2 linked regions of the Homo sapiens genome follow. The protein of the gene in region 2 interacts with the protein of the main gene of each other region in a biochemical or structural test. Each region holds a gene or a part of one and is shown on either strand. Other genes may lie near its edges.

Region 1 (7,478 bases), on a different chromosome or scaffold from region 2:
ACAAATCTAGATGAGTTTCAGAACACAGAAAGTGAATGCTGGCTGGGCGCGGTGGCTCACGCCTGTAATCCCAGCATTTTGGGAGGCCAAGGCAGGCAGATCACTTGAAGTCAGGAGTTTGATACCAGCCTGGCCAACATGGTGAAACCCCATCTCTACTAAAAATACAAAAATTAACCAGGCATGGTGGCACGTGCCTGTAATCCCAGCTACTCAGGAGGCTGAGGAAGGAGAATCACTTGAACCCAGGAGGCAGAGGTTGCAGCTGAGATCGCAGCATTGCACTCCAGCTTGAGTGACAGAGTGAAATGCTGTCTCGAAAGAAACAAAGAAAGAGAATGCGGAAAGAAAGAGGGAGGGAGGGAGGGAGGGAAGGAAAAGAAAGAAATTGCTCCCTGTATCAGCTCCTGCCCAACTCTAGGCCATACCCAGTTGTGAACTCACTCAGCCAACTCTCATGCCTGGCTCCTTCTCACCCTTTAGGTTGCAGAGCTGGACTGTTATCTTGTCTCTAATCACCCTCTTTAAAGTTAGGTTCCTCCTTTTTTTTTTTTTTTTTTTTTTTTTTGAGAGGGAGTCTCGCTGTGTCACCCAGGATGGAGTGCAATGGCGCTATCTTGGCTCACTGCAACCTCTGCCTCCCGGGTTCAAGCGATTCTCCTGCCTCAGCCTCCCGACTAGCTGGGGTTACAGGCACCCGCCACCATGCCTGGCTAATTTTTGTATTTTTAGTAGAGACAGGGTTTCACCATGTTGGCCAGAGTGGTCTCGAACTCCTGACCTCAGGAGTCCTGCCTGCCTTGGTCTCCCAAAGTGCTGGGATTACAGGTGTGAGCCACCGCACCCAGCCTGTTGTTTTCTTATACACATTTTCCCCTTCCTTTCCTTACACAAAATTTCCTTACGTTGCAATTATTCTTGTTTTGGAAAAGGATCTGTCTCCACTATTACAATGTCCACACATGAGTCCCCAGTGCCTGGCCCAGTACCTAAATTTGCATTGAAGGCAAGAGCATGCTGGGCACTTCCCATGTGACCTTACTGAATATTTACAACACCCTCTAAGACAAGTGTTCTTGGAGGTCTGGGATCCCTCATCCGCAATTCTGAAATCTAAAAAGCTCAGAAACCCAAAATAGTTTTCTTTCTTTCTTTTTTTTCTCAGAGACAGGGTCTCACTGTGTGGCCCAGGCTGGAGAGCAGTGGCACAATCACCATTTACTGCAGCCTCAAACCCCTGCCTCAAGCAATCCTATCTCAGCCTCCTGAGTATCTGGGACTACTGGCACACACCATCACACCCACCTAGTTTCTTTTAACTTTTTGTAGAGATGGGGTTTTGCTATGTTGCCCAGGCTGGGCTCCAACTTCTGGGCTCAAGAGATCCTCCTGCCTTGGCCTCCCTAAGTGCTGGGATTACAGGCATGAGCCACTGCACCTGGCCCCAAAATGTTTTTCTTAAAGGTGGTACAAAATCTGACTTCAACAGCTACAAGGCTTTTTCTGATCTTCATTCATCTCGCAGTCTGAATGGTCACCCTGTCTTTGCAGAAATTGTAATCTGTCTGGTTTTGTGGTGCTGTACCATGTCCCAGTGGGAGCACTAAGTCAGATTTTAGCTGTTCATTTTCCATTGCTGCAGAACAAACTATCCCAAATGTTAGTAGCTTAAAACAATAAGCATATATTATCTCATCCAGTTTCTGTGGTCAGGGACTCAGAGCAGTTTAGCTGGGCGGTCCTGGCCCGGGGTCTTCCATGGAGTCACAGTCAGTATGTCAGTGGGGGCTACTGTCTTCTGAAGGCTTGACTAGGGTCGGAGGATACAGTCCCAAAGTGGCTTCTTCACCACAGTGGGCAAGTGGGCGCCGGCTGCTGCCATGAAGCCTCAGTTCCTTGCCACATGGACCTCTTCACAGGGTTACTTGATGATAGGGTGGGTGGCTTCCCCCAGAGAGAATGCTCCGAAAGAGGGCAAGGCAGTAGCCGTGATGTCTTGTGGGAGCTAGCTGCAGAAGTCACACTCCATCATTTCTGCAGTACCCTCTTAGTTACCCAGGTCAGCCCTCTCCAGTGGATTGGAGGGGACTACACAGGAGCATGGATATTGGAAGGAGGGGATCCTCTTTGAAAGCTGGCTCCCCCAGTTATATGTACCTATTTGAAATCCAAAGATCCTCATTTCTAAAATACACATGGCGGCCTGGCGTGGTGGCTCACGCCTACAATCCCAGCACTTTGGGAGGCCGAGGCAGGCGGATCACTTGAGGCCGGGAGTTCGAGACCAGCCTGACCAATATGGTGAAACCCCGTCTCTACTAAAATACAAAAAATTAGCCAGGCGTGGTGGCGGGCGCCTGTAATCCCAGCTAATTGGGAGGCTGAGGTGGGAGAATCACTTGAACCTGGGAGGCGGAGGTTGCAATGAGCCAAAAATCACACCACTGCACTCCAGCCTGGGCGACAGATTGAGACTCCGTCTAAAATAAATCAATACGATACAGTACAGTACAATACAATACAATACACCACACCTGACCCCAAGGCTGTTGTTGGATGAGAGACTGTGGATTGTCACATGCACCTTTTACAGTTGAGGCAGAGGCTCAAGGTAGGTCACTGGAATGACGTGCCCCAGGCCACACATTAGCCTCTAACAGCTCTGGGTCCAGTTTTGTTTTTTCCACTCATGCCCCAGACAATCAATAGGCATTGTTTGTAACCATAGCCATGGGGACTGTAGGCTTGCTGTGCAGCAGCCACTGCACTGGACAAGCATTCCATGCACACTCCACCCTCTAGTCCCCACAACAGCCCAACCAGGTAGGGTGGGCACTCGCTCTGCCCTTCCTTCTGCTGAGAGGAAGCCCAGGCTCTGATGAGTAAGAAGGAGCCTTCCATAGCAAAGCCAGGCCTGTGTAGCCCAATGTCCGGGCCATAAGCACTTGGGTGGCTCTGGCTTTGCTTATAGGCTTGTCTGATTCTACAAGCTTGTGTTTTCCCAGGCTCAGCTCAGGCTTGGCTGTGGATCACATAAGGGAAGAAAGTCAAGAAGCTGCTCAGGGGCGGAGCCTGTGGGCAAGTGCACACACAGGGAAGACCCCTGCCCTATCCTGAGTAGGGAACCTTGGAAAGACCCCATGTGTGCTTGGGCATCATTGTGGGGAAGACTGGGCTGTGGAAAAACACTAGCGTTTGTCTGGGAATTTTGGGGAAGGAAAGGGATGGAAAAGCGAAAGGGTGGGAAGGGGCTGGTTTCCTGCTGCTTCTGCTATATAAGAACAGCATCTAGCAGGAAGGTTGTCCCGTGGGCCCATACTAGCCACCTTACAAAGCAGCGTCTGCAGTGGCTGACGCCTGTAATCCCAGCACTTTGGGAGGCTGAGGCCGGTGGATCTACCTGAGGTCAGGAGTTCAAGACCAGCCTGGCCAACATGGTGAAACACCATCTCTACTAATAATACCAAAAAATTAGCAGGGCATGGTGGCGGGCGCCTGTAATCCCAGCTACTCAGGAGGCTGAGGCAGGAGAATCGCTTGAAACTGGGAGGCGGAGGTTGTAGTGAGCCGAGATCGCGCCATTACACTCCAGCCTGGGCAACAGAGCGAAACTCCGTCTCAAAAAGAAGAAAAAAAAGGAAAGAAAAAAGAAAGCGGCGTGCGGGGCAGGGGGTTGGAGCTCTTTCTGGGCTCAGTGTCCCCAGGTGACGGAACACATGCCACGTGCTTGGTGCGCTGCGAGCTCAGCTCCTGGAGCTTCTGTTGCTGCTGTGGCCGCAAGGCCTGGACCCTCGCGGGGAGATTCAGACCCACACTTAGCTCCAGAGCTTGGGGGTTGTCGTTAAGCCCTTCCTTTCCATCAGAGGCTGATGAATCCCCAAACTCCTGGGCTGAGTTCGACTCTCCGACAACTCCTCAGAGGCGGATGTTTGGGGCCACTGGAATAAGCCCAGCACCAGCTGGGGTGTGGACAGCCTCGGGGGCCAGGCCAACTCTCCCGGACGGGTGCGGACGGCAGGGGCGGGGCCGGGCTGTAGGCGGTGGGAGGGGTGGGGCCGGGCGAGAAGGGGCTGGGCGGGCTGCCGTCGGGCGGGGCTGCGCGGGGAAGGGCGGGGCTGCGCGGGGGGCGGGGCTGCGTGGGGGAGGGCGGGGCCGGGCTGTTGTGGGTGGGCGGGGCGCACCGGGGAAAGTTCCGGGAAGGGCGGCAGCCGGCGGGGCCCGGGCGCGGAAGTTGCCGGCGGCCGCGCGGCCTCCCGGGCGGGCCTACAGCCATGTCCCGGGACCCGGGGTCGGGCGGCTGGGAGGAGGCCCCGCGCGCAGCTGCCGCGCTCTGCACCCTGTACCACGAGGCCGGACAGCGGCTGCGCCGCCTGCAGGACCAGCTCGCTGCCCGCGACGCCCTCATCGCTCGCCTCCGCGCCCGCCTGGCCGCGCTGGAGGGGGACGCCGCGCCGTCCCTAGTGGACGCGCTGCTGGAGCAGGTTGCGCGCTTCCGGGAGCAGCTGCGAAGGCAGGAGGGCGGCGCCGCCGAGGCCCAGATGCGCCAGGTACGAGGGCGGGTACCAGAGGAGCTGCGGGAGCGAGAGTGCGTGTGGCGGCCGCCGGGTCCTGGGTGGGTGAGCGAGCGGGCCCCGGGTCCTGAGGGGTTGAGGGGGTACTGGGTCCTGGGGTTGAGTTGGCCTCGGGTCCTGAGGGGTTGGGGGAGCACCAGGTCCTGGGAGTTGAGGGGGTGCCGGGTCCTGGGGGTGAGGGGGCCCCGGCTCCTGAGGGGTTGGGGGAGCATCAGGTCCTGGGGGTTGAGGGGGTGCCGGGTCCTGGGGTTGAGGGACACTAGGTCCTGGGGGTAAGGGGCCGTCGGGTCCTGGGGGTGATAGGGCAACAGCTTCTGGGGGGTGAGGGGACCCTGGGTCCTAGGGGAGAGAGGGGGACCAGGTCCTGAGTGGGATAAGGGGACACCACGGGCTGAGGTGTGCTGGGTCCTGGGGGGTTTGAGGCGTCACCAGGTGCTGGTGGAGGTGAGGGGGCTCTGGGTCCTGCGGGGTGAGGGTGCAAGGTTCTGAAGGGGATAAGCGAATGCTGGATCCTGGGGGGTTGGGAGGGCACTGGGTCCTGGGGGATGGTGAGGAGGCACTGGGTTCTGAGGAGGGGGGTTGGTGCAGTTCTTGGGTTCTGTGTGTGTGTGGTGTATGTTCAGGTGGGCTCTTAGGGGTATTTTGAGGTTCGTGTGTGGGAACACATTCCGAGGGGGGTGTGTGTATGCTGTGTGTATTCTGTGTGTATTGTGTAGTGTGTATGTTCCGGTTGGTTCTTAGGGGTGTTTTGAGGTGTGTGTGCGGGAGACACATTCTGAGGGGTGTGTATGGTGTGTGTGTGTACGCACACATGTGTGTCTTGGGTCCAAGGTCGTGTACTCATATTGTGTTCTAGAGTCCCTTCCAGCCCTCACCCATGCATGTGTCTTTCACTAGTGGCGCTTCAACTCTATGCTGGGAGCAATGGCAAATGCAGCCCGTGTCTGATAAAGGACACAAATCCTAGGCTGGGTGCAGTGGCTCACGCCTGTAATCCCAGTACTTTCGGAGGCAAGGCGGGCAGATTGCCTGAGCCCAGGAGTTCGAGACAAGGCTGAGCAACATGGTGAAACCCTGTCTACAAAAAGTGCAAAAAATTAGCCGGGCATGGTGGCACGTGCCCGTGCTCCCAGCCACTAGGGAGACTTAGGTGGGAGGATCACTTGAGCCTGGGAGGCAGAGGTTGCAGTGAGCCAAGATCGCACCACTGCACTCCAACCTGGGTGACAAAGTGAGACCTTGTCTGAAAAAATTAAATTAAAAATGGACACAAGGGTCCGGACGCGGTGGCTCATGCCTGTAATCCCAGCACTTTGGGAGGCCAAGGCGGCGGATCACGAGGTCAGGAGATTGAGACCATCCTGGCTAACATGGTGAAAACCCATCTCTACTAAAAATACAAAAAATTAGCTGGGCGTGGTGGCGGGCGCCTGTAGTCCCAGCTACTTGGGAGGCGGAGGCAGGAGAATGGCATGAACCCGGGCGGCGGAGCTTGCAGTGAGCCGAGATTGTGCCACTGCACTCCAGCCTGGGCGACAGAGCGAGACTCCGTCTCAAAAACAAACAAAAAAAGACGCAAATCCTGACTTTCTTCTCTTTGTCCTTGTCTATGATGTTTATGTCTGTTTTTTGATGATAAACTATAACACCACAACAGCAGTATAAGTAACAGTTTTTTTGTGCAATAGTATTTGCAAGCATCTGAAACATTCGGGTGAGCTCTGGCATCTATTATTCCATTTGATTCATGGCTATTATCCTAGTTTGCCCAGGAAAGAAACTAAGCCTGCAAAGGCAGTAGTCTGCGAAAGATAGTTTTTGTCTCCAGGGTTGGCCCCACAGCCTGATTTTAGAGAGAAAAAGAAACATGCCCTTTTTAAAAAAGAAAAAAAATTATAAAACAATTTTGAATATCTGAAAAATAAAGAATAAAATAGCCGCTGTAGTCCCACAGTGCAGGGATGACTAGTGTTAATCTCTTGGCATGCCTTCTTCCTGTTTTTCCTCTGTGTATAAGGTGTGTGTACACTTGGCATGGTTGTTTTCATGCTGTGTATACAGTTGTACTTAATATTAGGTTGTCAGTATCTACATCATTTAAAATACTTTCAGCAGCCAGTGTCTCCCCTACTCCACTCTCTCCCTCTTTCTGGAAGGTACATCCTGACTCACTAGAGCAGAAGGGAAGTTTAGAGGTCACCTGGTCTGCACCAACAGGTTTTAGAGTTGTGGATGCCAGGAGCCACAGATGAGTACAGACCAAGGACCCGGAAGGACACTCCGAAGTCATCTCCAGAATGTTGGTGGGACAGGATGCAGGGACCTCACAACCAGAGCAGTATACTTGCAGTCGGTGGCCATTGGTGTTCCGCTCACATGTGTTCCCTGGTGTCCTGTGTATCTGGCCACTCACCAAGCAGCTTATTGCAGCTTCCTGGTAGCCTCAGATAGAATTAGTTCTGTGTTCCCAGTATTACTGGCCCTGGTCCTGTCTTCCCAACATGTAAGCATGTAGGTTTTGTTTTGGGATTTTTATTTTTTTATTTTTTTGAGACAGGGTCTCACTCTGTTACCCAGGCTGGAGTGCAGTGGCACAAACATGGCTCACTGTGGCCTCAACCTCCTGGGCTTACGTGATCCTCCTGCCTCAGCCTCCCATATAGCTGGGACCACAGGAGTGTGCCATCACACCTGGCTAATTTTATTTTTTTTTTGTAGAGACGGGATCTTGCTGTGTCGCCCAGGCTGGTCTAGAACTCCTTTCTTCAAGTGATCCTCCTGCCTTGGCCTCCCAAAGTGCTAGGATTACAGGCATGAGCCACCACGCCCAGCATGGGGGGATTTTTAATTATTTAAGGAACATTTTAATGATTTAGTTTTGTTTGTTTGTTTTTTTATTTTTATTTT
Region 2 (7,347 bases):
CAGGAATTGGAGACCAGCCTGGCCAATGTGGTGAAACCCCGTCTCTACTAAAAATACAAAAAAAAAAAAAAAATAGCTGGGCATGGTGGTGGGTGCTGGTAATCCCAGCTACTTGGGAGGCTGAGGCAGGGGAATCATTTGAATCTGGGAGGCGGAGGTTGCAGTGAGCTGAGATGGCGCCATTGCTCTCCCAGCCTGGGTGACAAGAGCAAAACTCCGTCTCAAAAAAAAAAAAAAAAAGCAATTTACTTAAAAACATACAAACACAGAGACAAGTATTTTTGAGAAACAAATACCTTTTTCATTTTTTATACCAATGTAACAATAATCCATTAAACACACCTTTACTAACTGTTTTCTAGGAGTCTGATATGATGAGGAAATAGGTAAACCTTTAATAGCCAGTACTAAATTAGAGTGGCACAACTTTCACTGGGAAAAAAGATGGGTATTTTACTTTTCTGTTTTAGAAAAGTGGCTTGACAACAGTATGCTTATGTCTTAGAGTTTGAAATTCAAGTTCTTGAACATTATTAATGGCTACAATCATTCATACCCACATTGGCTGTATTCTTGATGGATCCAAAGTGATTTTCACCTCAACTCTGAATTTCATTCTCCTCTTTTGAATATAATACAACCATCTCACTAGAGGAAGCATTTCAGTCTTTTCTGATTGGAGATTCATTATTGTTTTAGATAATGTTTTCATTTGACTTATGGGTATATAAAAAATTTTATCTTAAAAATATTTCCTCTCATTTTAGCTAGCAACATTGTTTTCATGTCCACAAAAGCTGTTTTGGTGGATTTTGGCCTAAGTGTTCAAATGACCGAAGATGTCTATTTTCCTAAGGACCTCCGAGGAACAGAGGTAATTATGTTCACATGAAAAGGGTTACTATTTTATTAAGAATAAAAAGGAAAAAATGTTCTAGAATTATTGTGGGAACGAAGGACAAAGAAGGGGAAGAAACCCACTGCATTAAATCATTATTTTCCTTGGAACACATTTAATGAGCACTTGCTCTGTGTCAAGTACTAAGTTTAGCACTTGATTTTTTATTGTATTTTTTGCTATGTTATTTATAATACATAATAGTATTTGTAATATAATATACATGTTGATATATATAATATAGAACATTTGTACACAATGTCATGTCAAAATAGATCACATTGGCCAGGTGTGGTGGCTAATGCCTGTAATCCCAGTGCTTTGGGAGGCTGGGGTGGGAGGATCAATTGAGCCCAGGACTTTGAGACAAGCTTAGGCATCATAGCAAGACCCCATCTCTATAAAAAAAAACTGGTTTAGGCTGGGCACGGTGGCTCAAACCTGTCATCCCAGCACTTTGGGAGGCTGAGATGGGCGGATCACCTGAGGTCGGGAGTTTGAGACAAGCCTGACCAACATGGAGAAACCCCGTCTCTACTAAAAATACAAAATTAACCAGGCGTGGTGGCGGGCACCTGTAATCCCAGCTACTCGGGAGGCTGAGGGAGGAGAATCATCTGAACTCAGGAGGCAGAGGTTGAGGTGAGCCGAGATCGTGCCATTGCACTCCAGCCTGGGCAACAAGAGTGAAACTCCATCTCAAAAAAAAAAAAAATTAGCTCAGTGTGGTGGTACACGCCTGTAGTCTCAGCTAGTTGGGAGGCTGAGGTAGGAGGATTGCTTGAGCCCAGGAGTTCAAGGCTGCAGTGAGCCATGGGCATTCCAGCCTGGATGACAGAACGAGATGTTGCTTCAAAAAAAAAAAAAGCCCCCCAAAATAGATCATATCCACAGTTCGGCTTTATTTTGTGTGTTTTTGTTTTTGTTTTTGAGACAGAGTCTTGCTCCATCGCCCAGGCTGTAGGACAGTGGCGCATGATCTCAGCTCACTGTAATCTCCACCTCCTGGGTTCAAGCGCTTCTTAGTCTCCTGAGTAGTTGAGATTACAGGCATGTGCCACCACATCCAGCTAATTTTTTTTTTTTTTCAGTAGAGATGCAGGTTTCACTATGTTGGCCAGGCTGGTCATGAACTGTTGGCCTCAAGTGATCCTCCCACCTCAGCCTCCCAAAGTGCTGGGACTACAGGTTTGAGCCCCCGTGTCTGGCCCACAGTTCAGCTTTAATAATAATTATAGAATTAGAGTTAACTTTATAATAAGTTTAGCACTTAAAAAGCAGTATGTTATTTAATCCTTACAACAACCCAGTTGTTGCTATTGTTATTCTTATTTTACAATCAAGGAAATAAGTTTGCAGAGATTAAAATAAAGTGTCCAGAGTCACTCAGTGACAGACCCTGGACTTGAACCCAGTTCTTTCTAAGTCTAACCCTAAGGTCTAACTGCTACATAACTTTAAAAAATTATAATATTACATACATTATTAAAATATATTAGTGATATAACTAATATCACTGAGTTTTGGCTCAATGACAGTCTTAACTATGGTCATTAATATTTATGAGGACTCTAAAGGCCTCTCTTTGAGCCTAGGAATTCTATAATAAACCTCAAGTAGTGAGCATAAATGTATCTTATTTAAAGATGTAAAACAGCACTCATGTTTAACTCATCTGTGAAGCAAAAAACGACCCAGAAAAGCCTTTCTTTCCTGACTCTAAATGAGATTCTGAAAAATGCGTTCGCGGGCTTCCAAGTAATGTATTTAACATTCACATCATTAGGCTGACTGGGTGATTCAATTAGCCAGTGTCCACTGGGCATCTGCTATGTGGCAGGTTCTTGTGAGCACCAACGAGGAAGCATGACACAAGGCAGTGAGGAGCAAGCCTTAGTGGTACTCCAGCGATCCTCACTCTTTGGTGGGAGGACTTACTTTAAATTACCTGAATTATTAAAAGAGCAACCGTTTAGGGATGGGCGTGGTGTTCTCACACCTGTAATCCCAACCGTTCGAAAGGCCAAGGAGGTGGGGGTGGTTTGCTTGAGCCTGGGGGTTCGAGACCAGCCTGAGCAATAGAGTCAGACCTCATCTCTTTTGAAAAAAAAAAAGAAAAAAAGAAGGAAGGGAGGGAGGGAGAGAGAGAAGGAAGGAAGGAAGGAAGGAAGGAAGGAAGGAAGGAAGGAGAAAGAAAAAGGAAGGAAGGAAAGAAAAAGAAGGAAAGAAAGAAAGAAAGCATGCACAACAGTTTAGTTCACAGTTGATTGTGATGGGCACAAGGTTGGATGCAAGCAGGAAGGTAAATGGGTGTAAAAGCTGCCTCCTTGGCCCCTCACCACTACCGGGGGAAGCTGCACTGCCTGAGCCACTCAGCCCCATGCCCTTCTCTTTGCTGGAAGTGCCCATAGGAAATAGAGAGAGGGTCTTTGGCTGCACCTCTATGTCAGGATTACCAGGTCAGTCTTGGTGTTCAATCAGATGACAACCCTTAGTCTAGTCTAGCTAGTATACGTGTTGCACTGAACTGGATTGCAGCCACAAAAAAATTGTCTTCCTTTCAAACCAGATTCTTCCAGCCTGGGCAACATAGTGAGACCCCATCGCTACAAAAAGTAAACAAACAAACAAACAAAAACTTTACTTTTTGTAAAAATGGCATGGTGGTGCATGTCTGTAGTCCCAGCTACTCAAGAGACTGAGGTGGGAGGATTGCTTGAGCCCAGGATGAGGCTGCAGTGAGCTGTGATTATGCCACTGCACCCATAGCCTGGAAAATAGAACAAGACCTTGTCCTAAAAAAAAAAAAAACGCCAAGATTCTGTAAGTCCTTTCTCAACTCTCTCAAAGCCAGCACTCTCCCGGGCAGCAGAAGAAATCCTTGCTTTTGTGAATATTACTGAAGTTATTATTGAAAATGCTCGAGCGAGGATTCTTGACGGTTGTCTTTGAGCAGAACAATATTCAGAAGGGAAGCTGTACTTTTTTTTTTTTTTTAAGAATGCTTAGTCCCCAGATCTTAAGAATACTTTACCAAAGTGTGAGGTCTAATAAGACTTAATGCTTACGACATGTTTTCTTTGGAAAATGTTTCAGCATATTTGGCATTAGTCAGGAGTTCAGATATGTAATATTCCACCACCCTTTTTCCTGGAACCAGTTTGAAAAACAAACTATTTATGGTATTAAAGATGGAAAATACTTTTCTCTTCCTGGCAATGTGGTGAAGTTGAACATTTTGCAACATTGGAGAAAGAAGTGTTCTTTCTGGGGCTGTCTAGCGGAATGCATGGATATGAGATAATAACATATTTTACTCCTGAGTAGTATTTGGATCAGGTTTTTTTTGGCAAATGCAAATTGCTTTTTGTGAAGTGCAAAACTGTGCCTTGGTGTTTATAAATATAAACTCTCTTCTAATCAGCCTGCATTTAATATCTGCCTAGTACACACGAGTTGAAGTTTGATAATGAACAAAGTTGTGAAGTGACCAGTGAAACCTTTCAACAAGCTTGCTTTTACCCTTCCTACTTAAAGAGCCAGGAGATCTAATTAGTCAACTGTGCAGACTGGCTGATGTTAGAATTTGATCATGTGGCTACTGCACAGTCATAGACAATTTCTGATTTCTGCAGTATAGCTCCCAAATGCAAACCCTGGTTACCCCTGTTTGATTGCTCTCTCTAAGCATTGGTATTCAGAGCATTCTATTGTAACCATGTAATACACATCCAGGGTTAATCCAGCATATACAGAATAGACTGTTTTTGAGTTGCAAGGTACAGAGAGAGAATACATAGTGAATGCGAATAACAAATCAGAATTACTTTTAGAACTTGGTCCTTTTTGAAAAATCCTTCTAAGTCTGCTTGGTTTTACCTTTGTAAGTTAACATATAGTCATCACATGCACATATACGCACACACACGGTCTCTTTCCCTTTCTAATAAACATATTGAAAGGTGAAGGGTTCGATCGCTGACATCAAGGTTTTCTCTTGCTCCAGTGCCCTGCCCCGAGGGTGCAGAACTCTCAGAGAGCCCTGTGTTGGTCCCACCAGGGCTGTTTCATGCCTTCTAATCAGCCAGAGTGCTCGAACATTATGCCCTGCTGCTCCCTGATCTAACTGGTAGTTGGTAGAGCTTGAGGAACAAGAGCTCCGAGCCAGGAAGCTCTGGGGTTTCTACCTGAGTGGCAGCACCCAGGCCACCAGGCTTACAGATGTTCCATCCCCCCAGGCTGCCTAGGCGTGCAGTCACATAGAACCTGCAGAGCCACCTCTGCACAACCCCTGTGGGCTACACCAGCAGTGGGCACTCCGCCCAATCCTTGCTTTATTGGCAGGGAGGAGGGGGTACAGGAGAGAAGATAGGCATCCTCTATGGACAGTTAATAATACCCATTGCATTTCTTTTTCTTTTTTATTTGATTGTGGTAAGAACACTTAGCATGAACTCTACCCTCTCAACACATTTTTAAGTATACAATACACTATTGTTGACTATAGGTACAATGTTGTGCATTAATTTTTTAAGTTTGTGATATATTTAGTAGCAAAGTCCTTCTGGAAAGTCCTCTGGCTCTGCTGCAGGGAAAGCTTGAGAACGGGAGCTCAGTTTCACCTGTTTGCTGAGAGCAAAAGGAAGCTGGCCCGGAAGTGGCTTGCAGGAAGGAGTTGAGCAGGGTTAGGGTGGGGAGACTGGGCAGTTTCTCTGGTTTTTGTAAGCTAGTTCTCTAATTACTTACCCTGAAATGTGTTCCGGAAACACTGACCTCCATTCTCTTATTCACATGGCAGACAGTGTACAAGCTGTTTCAAGCGAAATACTGATAATCAGGATATTAACTACTATATGTCTGCACCAGCCATGAATACAAATCACTGGTCACCAGTGTTTGCTCTGTTCCTTTTTAAAAAAATGTTTAATTAAATTAGGTAACTAATTAATTTGTAAAGATGGGGGGTCTCCATCTTGTCCAGACTAGTCTCAAACTCCTGGGCTCAAGCAATCTTCCTGCCTCGGCCTTCCAAAGTGCTGAGATTCAGTGGCTCACGCCTGTAATCCCCACACTTTGGGAGGCCGAGGCAGGTGGATCACGAGGTCAGGAGTTCGAGACCAGCCTGGCCAACATGGTGAAACCCCATCTCTACTAAAAATACAAAAATTAGCCAGGCGTGGTAGCACATGCCTGTAATCCCAGCTAGTTGGGAGGCCGAAGCAGGAGAATAGCTTGAACCCGGGAGGCAGAGGTTGCAGTGAACCGAGATCGCACCATTGCATTCCAGCCTGGGTGACAGAGGGAGACCCCATCTCGAAAAAAAAAAAAAGCCAAAGTGCTGAGATTATAGACATGAGCCACCATGCCCCACCTCTCTTTGTTTCTTTCTTAAGTTTAGAAATAAATGCTCGTTAGAGAAACTATTTATAAAACCAGCCCTGTTTATTCAGCATGGACTCATGAGACCAAATATAACTTATACAATGTTAATATGGCTGCATTTAATATTTAGTCACTGGGCTACATAGTAGGTAAAAATAACAGATAGTTTGTAAAAATGACTCTTTAGAATCACTTCTACAATATTACACTTTATTTTTTAAGTTTTTCCCTTTCAAGAAATTTGTGTTAATACCCTATAGACTTCTATCACCTTTTATCATTGCAGATATTTAGAAGGTTAGCAGTGTAATGACAAACAGATAAAGAAGTCTGTTTGTAGTTCATTTAAATATAAAAGGAATTGGCGTTTTAGTTGAAAACTTAGCTACACCTGATCAGTGTACTGCAGAACTTTGATGAGTGGGAGTCCCTGATAGATTCCTGGTTCTAGGCTCTTTGCCACCAGATCAACCAGAAAAAGGTGGTGTTTTGTTTTGTTTTGTTTTGTTTTTTGAGACTGAGTCTCGCTCTGTCTCCCAGGCTGGAGTGCAGTGGTGCGATCTCGGCTCACAGCAGCCTCCGCCTTCCGAGCTCAAGCGATTCTCCTTGCCTCAGCCTCCCAAGTAGATGGGATTACAGGTGCCCATCACCATGCCCAGCTGATTTTTGTATTTTTAGTAGAGACCAGGCTGGTTTTGAACTCCTGATCCGCCCACCTCAGCTGGGATTATAGGTGTGAGCCACCGCGCCCGGCCAGGTGTTCTTCATCAGACTGCAGGGACACCTCCAGCAATTGCTGCATGGTTCCTGGGGAATGCCTGCATTATTCTCCTAGTTTAAGGCAAATGAGCCAATTTCCAGAACTGGATTAGGGAAATGGAAACCCACACAAAGGAGGGGAATGAAGCTGAATGTTTCCCACTTCTTTTTCAGATTTACATGAGCCCAGAGGTCATCCTGTGCAGGGGCCATTCAACCAAAGCAGACATCTACAGCCTGGGGGCCACGCTCATCCACATGCAGACGGGCACCCCACCCTGGGTGAAGCGCTACCCTCGCTCAGCCTA

What was found. Proteins that work in one complex are often made in the same cells at the same time.
Region 1: the proteins of MAP3K8 (region 2) and TNIP2 form a complex in vitro, tested with the Homo sapiens proteins (one study listed by BioGRID).

The regions. Positions count from the first base shown.
Region 1 is NC_000004.12:2,753,083-2,760,560, reverse strand, and holds the start of TNIP2 (TNFAIP3-interacting protein 2), read left to right. Parts: upstream 1-4,224; 5' UTR 4,225-4,271; coding exon 4,272-4,547; exon of another isoform or gene 4,548-4,612; intron 4,613-7,478. UniProt on the Homo sapiens protein: Inhibits NF-kappa-B activation by blocking the interaction of RIPK1 with its downstream effector NEMO/IKBKG.
Region 2 is NC_000010.11:30,450,871-30,458,217, forward strand, and holds part of MAP3K8 (mitogen-activated protein kinase kinase kinase 8), read left to right. Parts: intron 1-767; coding exon 768-874; intron 875-7,213; coding exon 7,214-7,347.